Regions from separate parts of the Homo sapiens genome. Here region 2 is linked to region 1. The links come from fine-mapping of genetic effects on gene expression. A gene starts in region 1. The other region holds a variant in brackets. All regions are shown on one strand. Distances are from middle to middle.

Region 1 (10,058 bases):
GACCTCCTGGGCTCAAGTGATCCTCCCGACTCAACCTCCCTAGTAGCTGGAACCACAGGCATACCACCACACCTGGCTAATTTTATTTTTTATCAAGTCATGGTCTTACTATGTTGCCCCCATGCTAGAACCTTGTAATTTTTAAAGGATTTAAAAATAGCTGATAAGTACAGCAAGCTTCCTGATTAGCGGCATATGTTGTTTATGATATTATCCAGGCTTAGGAAATTGACCAATCAGTTACATTTATACAAAGGTGTTCAGACTCCCAGTGAGTGATCATGTTACCTGCCACATCATCACTACATCTCCTCATATCAGTGCAGTTTCGATGGTACTCCAGAAAAGTTATCTAAGCCAACAAGATATTCAAACTGAAGAATCAACAGAACAATAGAAGGACCCTCTACATCACAATTAGGCAAAGAACAGAATTAGAACTCAGTGTGGAGAATACAAGCTTCATTCAGAAGTGCGCTAATAACTGGTTATGGATTATAAAAATCTCTTTCTCTTATGCCATATTCAATGAAGACGGTATGTTTAATATACCATCATGGGATATTTAATTCCAGAAAGAAAAGAAGCCTTTCTTAGAGCACTCCACTGGGCTATCCAACCACTGTTATGTTAACTTCAACTGAGGGCTGAGAGATTATGGAGGACTTGCACTCTAAGCAAAAGTGTCATGGAAATTGAGAAAACAAAGTCATAGGCAATATCCTTCTGTCAAACCATTAACACTCTGAATCCAAAGTCAAGATAATGGATCTGTTTTTTCATTTTAACCAAACTGGTTATAGTAGCAACTTAGGCTATAGTAACTCTGCATTCCAATCTAGTCAGTTTCCATTATTAAATACACTCAGGATAAATAGCTTCCCCTCCCCACCAAAACTCATTCCTTCGCTTTTTATATTCTTTCAACAACTATTGATAGCCAACTAGAGTTACTGAACAGCAAAGTCACATTGACCTCAAACTTCAGATGAACATAGGTCTTTGCACTGGCAATTCCCTGCACAGAATATTCTTCTCCAGATGTGGGGAAAAGAAAGAGAGATCGGACTGTTACTGTGTCTATGTAGAAAAGGAAGACATAAGAAACTCCATTTTGATCTGTACCATGGCTGGGCACGGTGGCTCACGCCTGTAATCCCAGCACTTTGGGAGGCCGAGGCGCGCGGATCACAAGGTCAGGAGATTGAGACCATCCTGGCTGACATGGTGAAACCCCGTCTCTACCAAAAATACAAAAAATTAGCCAGGTGTGGTGGCACGTGCCTGTAGTACCAGCTACTCAGGAGGCTGAGGCAAGAGAATCGCTTGAACCCGAGAGGCGAAGGTTGCAGCGAGCCAAGATTGCACCACTGCACTCCAGCCTGGGTGACAGAGCGAGACTCCATCTCAAAAACAAAAACAAACAAACAAAAAAAGATCTGTACCCTGAACAATTGTTTTGCCTTGAGATGCTGTTAATCTGTAACTTTAGCCCCAACCCTGTGCTCACAGAAACATGTGTTGTATGGTATCAAGGTTTAAGGGATCTAGGGCTGTGCAGGATGTGCCTTGTTAACAACATGTTTACAGGCAGTTTGCTTGGTAAAAGTCATCACCATTCTCCATTCTCGATTAACCAGGGGCACAATGCCCTGCGGAAAGCTGCAGGGACCTCTACCCAGGAAAGCCGGGTATTGTCCAAGGTTTCTCCCCAATGAGACAGCCTGAGATATGGCCTCGTGGGACGAGAAAGACCTGACCGTCCCCCAGCCCGACACCCATGAAGGGTCTGTGCTGAGGAGGATCAGTAAAAGAGGAAGGCCTCTTGCGGTTGAGGTAAGAGGAAGGCCTCTGCCTCCTGCATGCCCCTGGAAACGGAATGTCTCGGTATAAAACCCGATTGTACATTTGTTCTATTCTGAGATAGGAGAAAACCACCCTGTGGCTGGAGGCGAGATATGCTGGTGGCAATGCTGCTCTGTTATTCTTTACTACACTGAGATGCTTGGGTGGAGAGAAGCATAAATCTGGCCTATGTGCACATCCAGGCATAGTACCTTCCCTTGAACTTATTTGTGACACAGATTCCTTTGCTCACGTTTTCTTGCTGACCTTCTCCCCACTATCACCCTGTTCTCCTGCCGCATTCCCCTTGCTGAGACAGTGCAAATAGTAAACAATAAATACTGAGGGAACTCACAGACTGGTGCCGGTGCAGGTCCTCCATATGCTAAGTGTTGGTCTCCTGGGCCCACTGTTCTTTCTCTATACTTTGTCTCTGTGTCTTATTTCTTTTCTCAGTCTCTCGTCCCACCTGACGAGAAACACCCACAGGTGTGGAGGGGCAGGCCACCCTTCATCCAGGTATCTGTGGAATTAACTTTCCTGCCCTTCAATGTCACCTTCTTAATGTCACTTATAACAGATCCCCCAATCGTGCTATCTTTAATTAGCACTAATAATCTAAGATACCACATAATGTACTTTTAATACACATTAGTCCCTCACTAGTAATATTTCTACTAGTAGTATTTCTAGTAGTGAGGGTTTAATCTGTATTAAAAGTACACTATATAGTATCTTAGATTATTAATGCTAATAATAATAAAAAGCAGGAATGTCTATTTGTTCACTGATGAATATTAAGCTCCTAGAACAATTTGCACACTGTGCTCAGTATTCAGAGTGAATTAATATTCTAATGTTTCTATTAGAAAATATTTGAAATTCCAGGCCGGGCGCGGTGGCTCACGCTTGTAATCCCAGCACTTTGGGAGGCCGAGGGGGGCGGATCACGAAGTCAGGAGATCGAGACCATACTGGCTAACACGGTGAAACCCCATCTCTACTAAAAATACAAAAACAAAATTAGCCGGGGGCGGTGGTGGGCGCCTGTAGTCCCAGCTACTCGGAAGGCTGAGGCAGGAGAATGGCATGAACCCGGGAGGGGGAGCTTGCAGTGAGCCAAGATCGCGCCACTGCACTCCAGCCTGGGTGACAGAGTGAGACTCCGTCACACACACACACAAAAAAAAAAAAAAATTGAAATTCCAGACAACTAAACATAAATTTTAGAACATAATTAGTTAAGGTCATTGAAAAAAAAAAATTAACTGATGCTGGGGCTGGGTGCGGTGGCTCATGCCCGTAATCCCACCATTTTGGGAGGCTGAGCCTGGCGGATCATTTGAGGTTGAGAGTTCAAGATCAGTCTGGCCAACATAGTAATACCCCGTCTCCACTTAAAAAATATACAAAAATTAACCAGGCATGGTGGGACATGCCTGTAATTCCAGCTACTCAGGAAGTTGAGGCAGGAGAATCCCTTGAACCTGGGAGATGGAGGTTGCAGTGAGCCATGATCGTGCCACTGCACTCCAGCCTGGGCAACAGAGCAAGACACCGTCTCAAAAAATAAAAAAATAAAAAGTACTGCATTCTCTACTAGTTTCACAAGTCACTTGACTTTCCAACGCTTTAAGGATACTTCTTTTATAAGCCCGAATGTACTGCACTAAACTTAGTAGGAGATCCCTGATTGTCCATTATAATTGATCAATTAACTGAAATTACACAAGTAAACAAAAATGCCAGATGTCTGCCTACATATAATATTTATAAATCTGAATTTTATTTCATATATGGATGGAAGTTAAGGCCTTAACCGGTCAGCCTCCTTCCAGTGTTTTACCCTCCATTTTACCCTAAAAAAGGATAATCAACTGTTAACGCATATTCATAATGTGAAGTTTCCAGGATCAAGAATCCAAGAGGTTTTTTATTAACCATAATAAATCCAAACTTCTATCTTCCATATGCCTCCTTCTATTATATCTAACCTTCTATTCTCTCCAAAAGCATATAATTATGCCTGTTTCCTTACTGTGCCACAAACAGACTAACACATACTACCACGGAGCTGTTTATTTTCCAAACGGGATATCTTTTTCCATTCTCTCATTCAACATCCAACGGTCCATCAAGGCCCAACTCAAAACCTATTATTCTCCACAAAGCCCATTATATAAACCCTACAAGACTTAAAACAGATTCCAAACTAGTGACTGATAGGCCATATGAGACTTGTGTTTGACCCACTTTTTTTTTTTTAATAAAATTCTATTCCACTGACAACATTTAAAAACTGGGAGAGGATGCTTTTTAAAAAATGGTATTTCCAACTTTTTTTGAAAAAATTAGATGTTCTGGCAAAACTGGGATCATATTCTCACATAGCCACAATCAGCTGTAGCTGAGTGGCAGGTGACCCCTTCTAAGGGTGAAGTATTCATTAACGTTAACTGCCTGATCTCTGCAGCATACCTTCAGCACCTGCAATCATTCAAGAAATAACTGACTGTCTTATGTGCCAAGAACTGTATTAGCTACTGGAGTTACAAAGATAAACGAGACAAACACAGTCCCTCACCGACAGTCTCGCTTAGTAGGGATGGCAAAGAAGCAATTAAGATACATGTGATAAATGCCGTGAGGGAAGTGCAGGACAGCTAAGAGTACATAGCAAAAATACCTAACTCTATGGAAGTTAGGGTATACCCCTCAAGTAAAGTGACAGCTAAACTCAGATCTTTAATAGAAGTTATCCAGAAAAAGATAGGAGGAAACAGGGAGCTCAAATGTCCCAGAGAGAGAAAAGAGCCTTTGTGAAGATACTGAGGGAAGAAAGTATTCTGAGGAATTGAAATCCGTTCAACATGGCTACAGCCATGCCCAACCTTTAAATGCAGGGTCAGAGAAAGGGCTCAACTGAAATGGCTGGCAGGAAAATCTACGTGTTATCAATAGTTAAGGTTAGGAGATGAAGGAGAATTTCACTAAAGAAGTTGAATATGTAAAATAGTTTAAGCAGGAAATAGAGGTTTCAGAAAGCACAGATGGGGTGTTGAGGGGTTAAATGGGGAAGAAACGAAGAAGCAGTGATAGCCTAAGTCGAAAGAAAGCACAAAGCAGCATGGAAATGAGACTATAGCACAGAAGACCACAGAAGCTTACATCTTGGGCGGTAACCAAGGATAACAGAGATGTAAAGCATGGTAAGTTTGGCTGGCCACAAGTATGCCTAGAGAATTAGTGCCAGCGGTCTCCTGTCGGCCACGGAGGCATTCAGGCCTCTCAAAATTCAGCTGCGCCCTGGATGGATTGTACTTCCGTCTCTATAGAAGACATCGGCTTCACTCTGGATTGATTGTGCAGGCTCCAGGAGAGGCTGTGGGTTCCAGGCTGCTGGAACGCAGGCTCCCAGGGAGTGGTTAGAGGCCTGGTCTGTATGTGCTGGTAGGCAGAAGTATAAATTACCTTGCATTACGTTCTGATTTTTCTGTAGGAATGGTGGGCATGTTATGGCCTCTTAGAGAAAAAGCAGTGCGTAGCCATTATAGATTTACAGGAAGAGAAAAGGTGCCAAGAAGATCAACACTTGTCCATACCCATACTAAAGATGAGTCATTCTGTGAATCCAACTCTCCCCAAGTTGACCTCGTCTCCCCAACTAGACTGAGATCTTCACCAGAAAACAAAACAAAACAAAACATAAAAGGTCTGTTTATTTTGTAGTTCCCAAAGTGCCTAATAGCTGGGTACCGTGAACACCTTCAGTAAAATTACCGACTTCCTGACTCCTCTCGGGTCACTGAAGTTACCTAGCTCAGTCGTCTTCTTGCATATTAAGGCGCTACAGAGAGGCGAACCCCTATCTTAGACTCAATACTTCCCTTTATTCCAAACTCCACTGCGTCTCTCCACCCTCAACCGCATGGGCAGAATTGTCACACAATTCAAAGGCAGGAGAATCCAGGACCCGACACAGAAAACTCCCGCCCACTCCCCCCCGTTTAGCAGCCCGCACACGCTCTGCATCCATCTCTGGGAAAGGTAAAAAGCGCTCACCGACTCTGGCCCTCCGGGAGACCCCGTAAATGCAGCCGTCCGCTCGCCGCCGTTATCCCAGGTAGGTACTTCCGGCGCGCGCAATGACGTTAGCGAAGCGCTCGCCTCTGGGCCCGCCTTCGGGGCCCGGATCTCAAACAGTCGGGAAGAAGCACCGTGGCTGCTATTATCTGCTCTCCGCGCCTGACCCCTCCCAGGACTCGTGATGCCAAGGCCGCTGCGAGCGGCTACGAAGAGTCGGGGTTGAGCCCCAGCTGAGCCGAGGGCTCGCACTCTTCTGGTCTCCCAGGCCCAACCCACCTGAAGGTAAACGCCTCCTCAGCTGCGGCCTTCTCTCCTGCGGGGCCCCCTCCCCAGACTCGGCTGCCAAAACGCTCTGCCCCTCTCTCCCGCCACCCTTTTTATTCCAGGACCTTAACCTCTGCCTGCCTTCGCGGCTCTCAGCAGAACGTGTAACGCATAGTTTCAAATGAGAAACTTAAAAAGCGACGTATCTATGTTGAGTTCCTGAAGTTTTCTAAATAATTCCCCCATAACACCAAACATGAGGCAGTTTTCTCATTCCTTCACGAATTGGCATGCCATAGAGTCAGTATTTTTCCATTTGTGATGGTTGATCTTCCCATCTCAAATACACACCGCACGCTCTTTTTAAATCAGAAATTTGAATTTGGTTGAGCCTGATATTTTCACGGTAATTTGCTGACTTTGTAAGATAAGATGTGAAAATTACTGATTACATTTGTAAACTTTATATACATATACACACATACCTACAGGTCTGTCTCTTCGAGGCACCAAGCCTATTTATATAATGTATCATTTCATAATTTGGCAATAAGCAAAATTAGCGTTTCGAAAGAAGTTTATATTGTCGATACATAAAGCTTAAATTTACTCCTTAACATCATACTAAAAGGGGAAAAGAAAATTTTCCTCTTAACACACCACTCCAGAGAAAAAAAATATTAAGACAAGCAAAAAAGGTACCCAGCCATAGTACAGGCATGCACAGCATAACAACTTTTTGATTAACAACAAACCACATATACCACAGTGGTCTCCTAAGAGTGTAATACATTGTACCATATTTTTAGTGTACGTTTTCTGTGTTTAGCTATGTAAATATTTACCATTGTGTTTCAACTGTCTACATTATTCACTACATTAACATGCTGTACAGGTTGTAGCCTAGGAGCAATAGGCTAGACCATCTAGGTTTGTCTCAGTACACCCTGTGATGTCTGCACTGTGAAATCACGTAACACTCAGAACATACCTCCTTCATTAAGCATAGCATGACTGTGTATTAGCAAAAATCAGTGGCTAAGGTTCTGTCTGAGTCCCCATGCTCTTTCTGACCTGGGTGAGCAAGGTGCAGGTAATGTACATATACAGTACATATTCAATAGAGCATTTTTTTTGCTCATGGTCTGAGTGGAAGTTAGGAGTAGCCTCAGGGTTTTTCCTTCATCTGTTCAAAACCCGTCTCCCTACCCATACAATCTGGCACTGAAAGTGTTGGTATAAAGAATACTTGAAAGAAGAAGAACCAAAAAAGAATTTTTTTTAAGTGGTGACTGGGAAAAAGGAATTCCTTAATTCAGCCTGCTGGAGTCATTGTTCCTAACTTCCTAAAATGTAAGGAAGGTGTACACATCTGGCATAATTAAATCGGTGATTGTTAATACTTTATTGGTTTTTGTTTTTTGTTTTTTTCCAAATAATACCCAGACTGGTCTGATGTATTGGTTTTATTTGGAATTAATAATACTTGGTTTAGGCCAGGTGTGGTGATTCATGCCTGTAATCCCAGCACTTTGGGAGGCTGAGGCAGGTGGATCATTTGAGGTCAGGAGTTCAAGACCAGCCTGACCAACATGGTGAAACACTGTCTCTACTAAAAATACAAAATTAGCCAGGCATGGTAGTGGATGCCTATAATCCCAGCTACTCGGGAGGCTGAGGCAGGATAATTGCTTGAACCTGGGAAGCAGAGGTTGCAGTGAGCCGAGATCACGCCATTGCACCCCAGCCTGGGCAACAAGAGGGAAACTCCGTCTCAAACAACAAAAAAAGAATCCTGGTTTAGACTGATTGCTGATAAGTTTGTTTTCACTTTTAGAAATGAGTGGTGGATTGGCTCCAAGTAAGAGCACAGTGTATGTATCCAACTTGCCTTTTTCCCTGACAAACAATGACTTGTACCGGGTAAGTAAATCTTATCGAGTGACTGCTATTTGAGATACAGATAACCTTAAGCAAATAGTTCTCCCTGGCAAATTCTTTTTTCCTTTTTTTTTTTTTCTTTTTTTGAGACAGTCTAATTCTGTCACTGAGGCACGAGGCTGTAGTGCAGTGGCACTATCATGGCTCACTGCAGCCTCCCCGCCCCCTCAGGTGATCCTCCCACCTCATCCTCCCAAGTAGCTGGGAATACAGGTGTGTGCCACCATGCCTCTACAAGCTACCTGGGAGACTGAGGTTGGAAGATTGCTTGAGCCTAGGAGGTCGAGGCGACAGTGAGCCAAGGTCACACCACTGCACTCCAGCCTGGGTGACAGAATGAGACCCTGTCTCAAAAAAAAAAAAGAAAAAAAAATAGAAGCTATATTTATTGAACATTTAAGTCAAATTATGTGTTAGATACTAAGGAGATGCTAAGATGTTAGGTGCTAAGGAGAAAAAATAACGCAGGAAAGGTGGGCTATTGAACGTTAAGTTGGGAATGGAAGTGAAATTTTACATAGGGCGGTCAGAAATGCCATTATTGAGAAGGTGACTTTTGAATAAAGACCTGAAACGAGTAAGAGGCACCTGTGCAAATTCTAGAGGACAAACATTTCAGAAAAAGAGGGGTAATCTTAGGTAAGCCCACTCGAGGTGCCTTATACGACCTATTTACATCATGGTAAGGACTCTGGCTTTCACTCTGCATGAAACAAGAAGCCATTAGTAAGTATTATATAGAAGACTGTACTGGCCTTCAGAACCCAGTGTTGCTAACACTGCTATCCAGTTATTTTACATTCCAGCATTATACAGCTTAATCATAGAACGAAAAAATTCGTTATTATTGGTTGCATATACTAACACATTCTAAAAGACTTTTTATATAATAGGAACTCTTAGTATATGGGTAATGAGCTGGAACTGTAGAAATAAATGAGATTGCATAGGATAAAGTAAAAGTAACAGAAGAGAGAGCCAAGTATAAAGTTCCACCAACATGTTAATGGTGGGCAGAGGAAGAAGACTGATAGAAATGGATTTTTCATTATAAAAGCTTATTTTATGAGGTTTTGTTTTGTTTTTTAAATAAAGCAGTCTAAGGATTTGCCTTCTCAAACAGGGATTGCTTAATAGGAATAACAAGGTAGTGGTGAGGGTAGAATTGGAAAAGTGCTGCTCCATAAGATTGACATTTGAAGCACAGGTGTATCTGGCACTATGATGGAGTTGATAGTTGCCATGGGTATACCTCAGGAACACAGCAGCTGTCCAGTATGTATGCCTTAGATCTACCACATGTGTAGAGTGAGTTTTTTTCTCTGTATTTACTCCATTGTCAAATTTAGAAACAGACAGATACATGTGACTCCAACAACAGTAAGTATATTATTCTAGTAACCAAAAAAAACTTTTTCCTAGGGCCTGTCTTATAGACTGAAGGCTGAAATTATTCATAAACTGTAACAAAGAATTTGGTCAATGTCTGCAACCTAAAAATTTGATGTTTTATGATTTTAAAATAAATTGTAAATATTTGGTCTTTTGTTTCAGATATTTTCCAAGTATGGCAAAGTTGTAAAGTAAGTATTCACATTAAATTTTGTAACTTCATTTAAAAGTTTATCTGAATTTGCTTCTACATTTTTTTAATGACAGATTTTTAAAAATAAAACATGCTTGATATAATAAAGAAAATACTATTAACATTTTTATGACAATTTAGTTGGTTTTCCATGTACATAAACATGTAGACAATTTTTCTTAAAGACTATTACATACATACAATTTTCTTTTCTTTTTTAATTTGACATACCATAAATGTCTTTCCATGTGCTATAAAGATACATCCTCATAGCTAATGGTAAACAAATATTTTGGTTACTAGGAAGTGTGTTATCAAGTATACTATAAGTAACCTA
Region 2 (8,000 bases), 28 kb before region 1:
AGGAAATTTCAAACTACTTATATTAGTAAATAAGAAAGAAAAATAATTATCTAAATTAAAATGTTAAGATTTTTATTAAAAAAAATTAAACACACATGTTAAACCATTTTTAGCAGGCAAACTGACATCTATTAATATTTAAAATACATATATATACCCACTGACCCAGAAATTCTGCTTCTAGTAACCTATCTCGTAAAAACTAAAGTACTATTTCATGAAAATATTATGTACTAGAATTTACTGCAGCACTGTTTTGTACTGTAAACAGAGTGACCAGCTAAATTATTTGACATATCCTCACCATGGACTATTACTTGACCATTAAAAAGATTCAATTTGGCCGGGAACAATGGCTCATGCCTATAATCCCAGCACTCTGGGAGACCAAGGCAGGAGGATCGCTTGAGCCCAGGAGTTCAAGACCATCCTAGGCAATAAAGTGAGACCTCATCTCTACAAAATAGTTAAAAAATAAAATAAAATAAAATAGATGGGTGTGGTGGCACACACCTGTGGTCCCAGCTACTCAGCAGGCTGAGGCAGGAGGAATGCTTAAGCCTGACAGATCAAGGCTACAGGGAGCCATGATCACACCATTGCATTCAAGCCTGGGTGACAGAACTTTGTCTCAAAACAAACAACAAAAAAAGACTCAATTAAACAATCAAAAACCCTAAATGTTTATGAATATAGAGAAAAATATAGAAGAACTTATACCAAGATGTTATCATGGCTGTGGGGATTAGAGATTTATATATATGTTTTTATTTCATTTATGTAAAATGTTATATACATACACAAAATGTTATAAAAAAGAGACAGGAAGAGAAAATTAAAATTAACATAAAAACTGTTATTTTACAAACTGAAAAATCACAATGGGAAAGATATAGAATCAACCTAAATGTCCGTCAATGGATGACTGGATAAAGAAAATGTAGTACATATATACAATGGCATACGATTCAGCCATAAAAAAAGAATGAAATCATGTCTTCTGCAGCAACATGCATGGAACTGCAGGCCATTATCTTAAGTGAAACAACTCAGAAACATAAAGTCAGAGACTGAATGTTCTCACTTCTCACTAATAAGTGGAAGCTAAATAATGTGTACATATGGACATAGTGGAATGAGAGACAGAGATTTGGAAGGGTGGGAGGTGAGTGAGGGATGAGAAATTACTTAATGGGTACAATATACATTATTCAAGTGGTGGATACACTAAAAACCCAGACTTCACCACTACACAATATATTCATGTAACAAAACTACACTCGTATCCATCAAATTTATACAAATAAAAAATAATATAAATAAATAAAAACAATTAAGCTAAAATAAATTTCTTGGGAGGTATTTCTTTGGAGGAGAAAGATAAGCCACTAGCTGATCTAGTTTTTAAAAGTGTTTTACAATTCTGCCTTTCACATAGGTCTTAATTATGTCAGATATTATTTGGATATATCAGCTTCCAATGTCATGTTTTTGAAATGTTTGTCCCAGCACACTATTTATTGAAAAGTTCATTCTTTCTCCATTGGATTTGTAATGCCACTGCTACTGTACCCCAAACTCCAGATATATCTAGGTTTATTTGCAGATTCTGTTTCACTGGTCTATTTGACATCAACAGTACAACACTGTTTACATCACTACAGCTTTATAATTATGCACATATGGTATCTTGAGTCTTCACATCTTTTTCAAGGCATTTTTGCCATTTAGCCCTTTACTCTTTCATATTAGTCTTAAAATTAACTTGTCAACTTCCGTGCAAAATAAAAAATAAAAAAAATTTTGATCTTTGACTGGAACCAAATTGAATTACCACCTTAATTTGAGGAGAACTGACACTTATATGATACTGAGTCTTCCTCGCTAAGGATGTCATGATTCTCCTTTTACTCTGATTCACTTTTATTTCCTTTAGAAATGATTTGTAATTTCCTTGTATAGGCCTCATACTCTTTTGGTGAGTTTATTCCTATCACTCATTACAGTTTTCATGCTATAGTATTTTGAAAACAAATTTTCTAATTTATGCTGATAGTTGATCTTATTACATTGGACCTTGCTAATTTCATAATAGTTCTTACAGTCTATAGACTTTCCTAGATTTTCTGCATAATTATATTATCTTTAAGTAGTTGCGTTTTTCATTCTAATTCCTACAACTTATTTATTTTTCGCTTTACTGTAGGCATTGTTACCATGTTGAGTGGAAGCAGTGACTAGATGTCATTGTTTTGTTCTGATTTTAAAGCAAATGTTTCTAATTTTACCATTCAGTACAGCAAATGCCCAATTACCCGGTCAAGGAAATTCTCTTTCCATTCCCAGCTGGCTATTTTTATAACTACTTGGTGATTAATTTTATCAAAGCATTTTTTTCGGCATCTATTCTATTGCTTCTTTTGGAAGAAACAGTCTGCCATGGGTTCTGAATGTCCCTGCACATAATTGCCATGTATGCCAAATTCCAAGACCTAACTATCCACTGACACTGAACAGTTTCTGTAGCTGGTTACAGAGACAATTAAATAGGTTAAGGTGACCACAATGTGACTACTATGGCAGGTCACTCCCAGGGAAAGGAGGACTAGCTTGCTTTCTGCTTTCTACAAAAGGTACCAAGCTCTTGACCCTGGGTTCCACAGCCACAGTGTATCCCACTGTGTGCACAGTCACCATCTGTGCCTATCACATCGCCCTGTGGGATTTGGGGACAGGGAACCTACACTACAATGCTGATCCTCCTGCTGATTGCTGTGCTGTGAATAAAAATCTGTCTTGCTCTGATCCACTGAATCTTGTCTACTTTTGGCATCTTTGGAGTTGTGACAGTTGATGCCTTGCCACTCTCTATGAGACTGGGGTTATTTTCCCTGATAGTTCATAAGAAATCTCTACAAGGCTCCTTTTACAACTTTCGATACCACCACTGTGATGTCATTTAAAAACAAAAACTATCAATCAATTTAAATGTGTCCATCGTTTCTTTCCCACAACTATTCTATTAGATGCCCTCTGTAAGTAATCAAAGCCAACGATTGAGGCCCTTGCAAAATGTGTTTCCCAAAAGGACTTCACTAATTAAAGAAACTGAGATGCCTTATAATAGACTTTGTAAGAACCCAGAATACTTCTGAAAAAAAGCCTTACTTTCTAATTAAGCAAACCTATCAAATCAAATACTAATTAAGCAAACCTCATAATCCATACCACACATTAATAATTTAATAATTAGATTGCAAAACTAAATCACAATAGTTCTTTTTTTTTTTTTTTTT[TA/A]GACGGAGTCTCACTCTGTTGCCCAGGCTGGAGTGCAGCTGCACGATCTCAGCTCACTGCAACCTCCACCTCCCAGGTTCAAGCAATCCTCCTGCCTCAACCTCCCTAGTTGCTGGGATTACAGGCACCTGCCACCATGCCCAGCTAATTTTTTTTTCTTTTTTTTTGTATTTTTAGTAAAGGCAGGGTTCCACCATGTTGGCCAGGCTGGTATCAAACTCCTAACCTCAAGTGATTTGCCCGCCTTGGCCTCCCAAAGCACGGAGATTAACAGTGTGAGCCACCGCACCAGGCCCAAATATTTTTAAATATTTTTTTATGAGTTACAAAATGCCAAGAGATGTGGAACACTAGTTATCAGTGCTATTATACTACATAGTCACAAAAAGAATATAATGCTTGTTGCTTTCAAAATTTAAAATCCCAGTAAAATATTTCATCTATGTGCCTTGAGTCTATATTTCCAAAGCAGACATCACAGTGAGTCAAGTATCAAAGTACTTATGCTATTATTTTTATCCTTTTACCTGTATTCAGGTTGCCTGCTTGCAGAATGATCGTCTCTTGTCCATCTATAACCAGATTCATCCTGTAACATAAAAAAGCTACTTAGCTATTTGTTTACATTATTTTGGACAAGTGGGACATATCTAACAATACTACCAGAAACTAGACCGAATTTCCCTAAACTTCAAAGGCATAAAAAGGGAAAAACATTCAGCAAGTCATCCATTTCAACAACTGAAAGAGTAGACTGACTGAGAACCTGTGGTACCATTTATCTCTATTAAAATGCTTAAATTATTTCTTTGGTAGACTCAAACAAGCTAATTGCCAAAGATACATATATCAATATCACAACAGTAAAGGGCTATTTGAGAACAAAGTCTAAATTTAATAAAGCACACATTTCTCAACCTCACATTTTTCCTTCTGTCAAGTTCTCTCACCAATTTTCAGTTTCAAGCCCAATGAAAAACTTGCTACTTTCCCATTTTTCCTGCTCAAGTTTTATTTTCTCACCTTATTTTCAATTAAAAACCAAACTGGAAACAATATAAGAAACTGTCACTTATTGATAATCTATATCAGAATAAGATTTAAATTTATTTAAGTTTAAATAAATTTAAAATTAATCAAACAAAGCACATTTTGTTCTCTAAGACATATTTGCAAAGGTACATAAAAAAGAACCATATAGCAATCCACACCAAATTACTTTAAAATTACACACAGAATTGGCCAGGCGCAGTGGCTCACGCCTGTAATTCCAGCACTTTAGGATGCCAAGGAGGGTGTATCACTTGAGTTCAGGATTTCGAGACCAGCCTGGCCAACATGGTGAAACCCCATCTCTACAAAAATTAGCCGGGCACGGTGGCGTGCACCTATAGTCCCAGTTACTCGGGAGGCTGAGGCAGGAGAATTACTTGAACCCAAGAGCCGGAGGTTGTACTGAGCCAAGTTCTTGCCACTGCACTCCAGCCTGGGCAACAGAATGAGACTCTGTCTCAAAAAATAAATAAATAAAATTATACATAGAATAATACAATATGCAAATTACGTATCAGGAAAACGGATTCGTCTAAAATAAATATCCTCATCTTCCTCTTTAGCATCACACACTCTATTCTTATATAAATAAAATATAATCATTTTCCATCTCAATATTAAATATAAACACAATTCAAAACTTAACAGTGCTAATAAAATATTAAATCAAGTAATCTGCATTACATAACTGAACTCTATATAAGAATTAGTGTCATGAGACTCTTAAGGATCACAAGTATGCTTGTTGTTTGTTTGAAGAGAATTTAAAGAAAAAATGTTATACACACAAAAGTATAAAGACAAACACAATTGGTAACAATATTAGAAAAAACTGCCATTGAAGCTTTATTATGCTACAAGTTTTTAGAAAAAAAATCATTTTCATGAGGTTTCAAATACAAACTGGTCCAATGAATAGAAAACTCACATAGGATTTTCATAAAAGTGGTAACAACTGAGACGGTGCACTAAAATCTCAAACTTTCACCACTATTCAACTCATCCATGTAACCAAAAGCTACTTGAACCCCAAAAGCTACTGAAATAAAATAAAAATGTAATAAATATGAGGACCACAAAAAGCAGCATGACATTCAAAAGCTGAATAAAATAAAAATCAATTCTGTGAAAACTAAGAAAGCTATAAAACCCCAAACTTTAGAAACAAACACGAGAAAACACTGAATAGTCTCATTACAACTTTGGAATTGTTAGGGGTCACTATGATGCAGTAGTAAGAGAAACCAGACTCCCATACATACCGATCCTAAGTAAATCACCTTACCTCCATTTCTTCAAGCGTAAAGTATGAAAACTAATTCCAACAGCCAATGTGAGGTCAAATTATTTTATAAACAGGGTTTGAATATGTACTGTTAATTGTCATATTATACAGTAGGAAAGGGGGAAAAAGAGAAAAGGTGGGAAAACAACCTAGCTAAGGAATACTGAAAACATGCAAGGTAGGACAGAGGAATTCCATCACAGAATAGTATTAAGTTCAACTACAGATTACTGCATCATTAAATACATACTTCTACATTATTAAGAATGCTCAAGAGAAGCGAGTTGTAATAGTAATAATAGCAGCTAACTTTTTTTTTTTTTGAGACAAAGTCTCGCTCTATCGCCCAGGCTGGAGTGCAGTGGCGCGATCTCGGCTCACTGCAACCTCCACCTCCCAGGTTTAAGCAATTCTCCTGCCTCAGCCTCCCAAGTAGCTGGGATTACAGGCACCCACCACCACACCTGGCTGATTTTTGCATTTTTAGTAGAGACAGGGTTTCACCATGTTGGCCAGACTGGTCTCGACCTCCTGACTTCAGGTGATCCACCTACCTAAGCCTCCCAAAGTGCTGGGATTACAGGTGTGAGCCGCTATGCCCAGCCAGCTAACATTTTTAAATTGCTTCCTATGACGATGTTTTGAGTGCTTTCTAATCTCAGTTAATAAATAGACTTTAGGCTGGGAGTGGTGGCTCACACCTATAATCCTAACACTTTGGGAGGCCAAGGTGGGCCTCCCACTTGATCATCAAGTGACCTCCCACTTGATGTCAGGAGTTCAAGACCAGCCTGGCCAACATGGTGAAACCCTGTCTCTACTGAAAACACAAAAATTAGCCAGGCACGGTGGCACGTGCCTGTAATCCCAGCTACTTGGGAGGGTGAGGCAGGAGAATCACTTGAACCCAGGAGGCACAGGTTGCAGTGAGCCGAGATCGCGCCACTGCACCCCAACCTGGGGGACAGAGTAAGACTCTGTCTCAAAAAAAAAAAAAAATTAAGTGGGTTATCTAGTAAGAAATGGTAACCACCTGCTCATCACTTATTAAGTACTAAGACAACAGATTACCTTTAAATGGTTTTGCAAATCCCTGCCAATTTAGGGGAATAAAAAAAGCAGGCTGGTTGGAATTAATTTCATTTAGATAGTGCCACCCAGAGTGCTTACCTACTTTGTCCAGTACCCCAAGATTCTTGACTATTAGGTCCCATCTGACAGCTCCAGCAGGCAATTCACATGAGAGCATCAAGCAGAAAGTGTTTATTCAACTGCTTTCACGGCCGTCACATAAATTTTTAAATTACATTAATTTTAAACTTATAAGAAATAACAATTAGTACATGGGGGAAATTTACATACTCCTCTGTGAGGTGGACCACTTCTTCGATCATGAGAAAAACTGCGGCCCTCGTCATAGTCTCGGTAATCAACATGACTGTAATATCTATTGTAGCTTCCTTCACCAGGTCTGTCTAGCAGTGGTGGTTTCTTTGGCACAATATTAACTAGTCTATTGTAGCCATCCTAAAACAGACAAAAAGAAATATATACAAATGACTAATTTCTCTATTTGGTTTTGGAAAGGTTTTTAAAAAGCACAGGAGTTCTTACCCTTAATCGAATGAGCTAAATGTATAAACAAAAGCGTTAATGAAATAACATAAATATAACTAATACTAAGGTCTTCACATGGATTAAAGGAAATCAAGTTGTTCAACGAAGAAAGCCAGGTGTTCAAAATGACATGCAGCAATGCGAAAACCAATCATAAGTAAAAGAAAAAATACAATATTATCATTTTAGTAAAAAATAAACTTAAGACAGAATGTTACAGTAGCTCTATCCCTAATTGCCTAACAATTTTAGAAATAAAATTATGTAAGACAGCTCTCATATTTGTTCTACTATACTATTTAGAAGAAATATAAGCTATTTACCCACAAGCAACAGCTAATGATGATATTGAGCCAGAATGATCAAAAGGAAACATTTTGCTATTTTTCCAGCAGTAATGGAGGGAGGAGATTGGCTTTACAGGTCTAGAAGCAAAATAAAAGCTGATATAAAATTTGAACTAATTTTCAAAGTACTGGAATACCTTGTTAATGTTTTAAAAAATGAGTAGGTTTTTTGTGAGACTTGGGGAATTGGACGCAGGGAGAACATATGTCTTAGGTTAGTAGCTGCTATAAAATAACAAAAACGATTATCCACAGAAAGAAGTAGAGAGCTACAGAACATATATCTGTACATAATCTGGTCTTGGGCATTCATGACACATCAATCAATATCAAATGAGATATATGTTAAAAAAAAACTGTAAAGCCTGATATAACATAAGATCAATATGAATTAACTAATC

The links. PIP is the estimated chance that this variant, and not a neighbour inherited with it, causes the effect.
Region 2: its variant is fine-mapped to the expression of PPHLN1 in whole blood (INTERVAL, PIP above 0.99).

The regions. Positions count from the first base shown.
Region 1 is chr12:42,322,079-42,332,136 of GRCh38, reverse strand. PPHLN1 (periphilin 1) reads right to left here and starts at 5,970. Exons shown (of 10, transcript NM_201439.2): 1 at 5,908-5,970. It overlaps ZCRB1 (zinc finger CCHC-type and RNA binding motif containing 1), which reads left to right and starts at 6,043. Exons shown (of 8, transcript NM_033114.4): 1 at 6,043-6,213; 2 at 8,033-8,118; 3 at 9,691-9,719. The coding sequence starts at 8,035. It overlaps MIR7851 (microRNA 7851), which reads left to right and starts at 8,278; the gene lies at 8,278-8,437. RefSeq lists an enhancer at 6,298-6,347.
Region 2 is chr12:42,351,047-42,359,046 of GRCh38, reverse strand. PPHLN1 (periphilin 1) reads right to left here. Exons shown (of 10, transcript NM_201439.2): 3 at 6,998-7,162; 4 at 3,825-3,886. Among named protein-coding and RNA genes, the nearest start is that of PPHLN1, 29 kb to the right of the region's middle. The variant TA/A (reference allele first, on the strand shown) is at 3,297.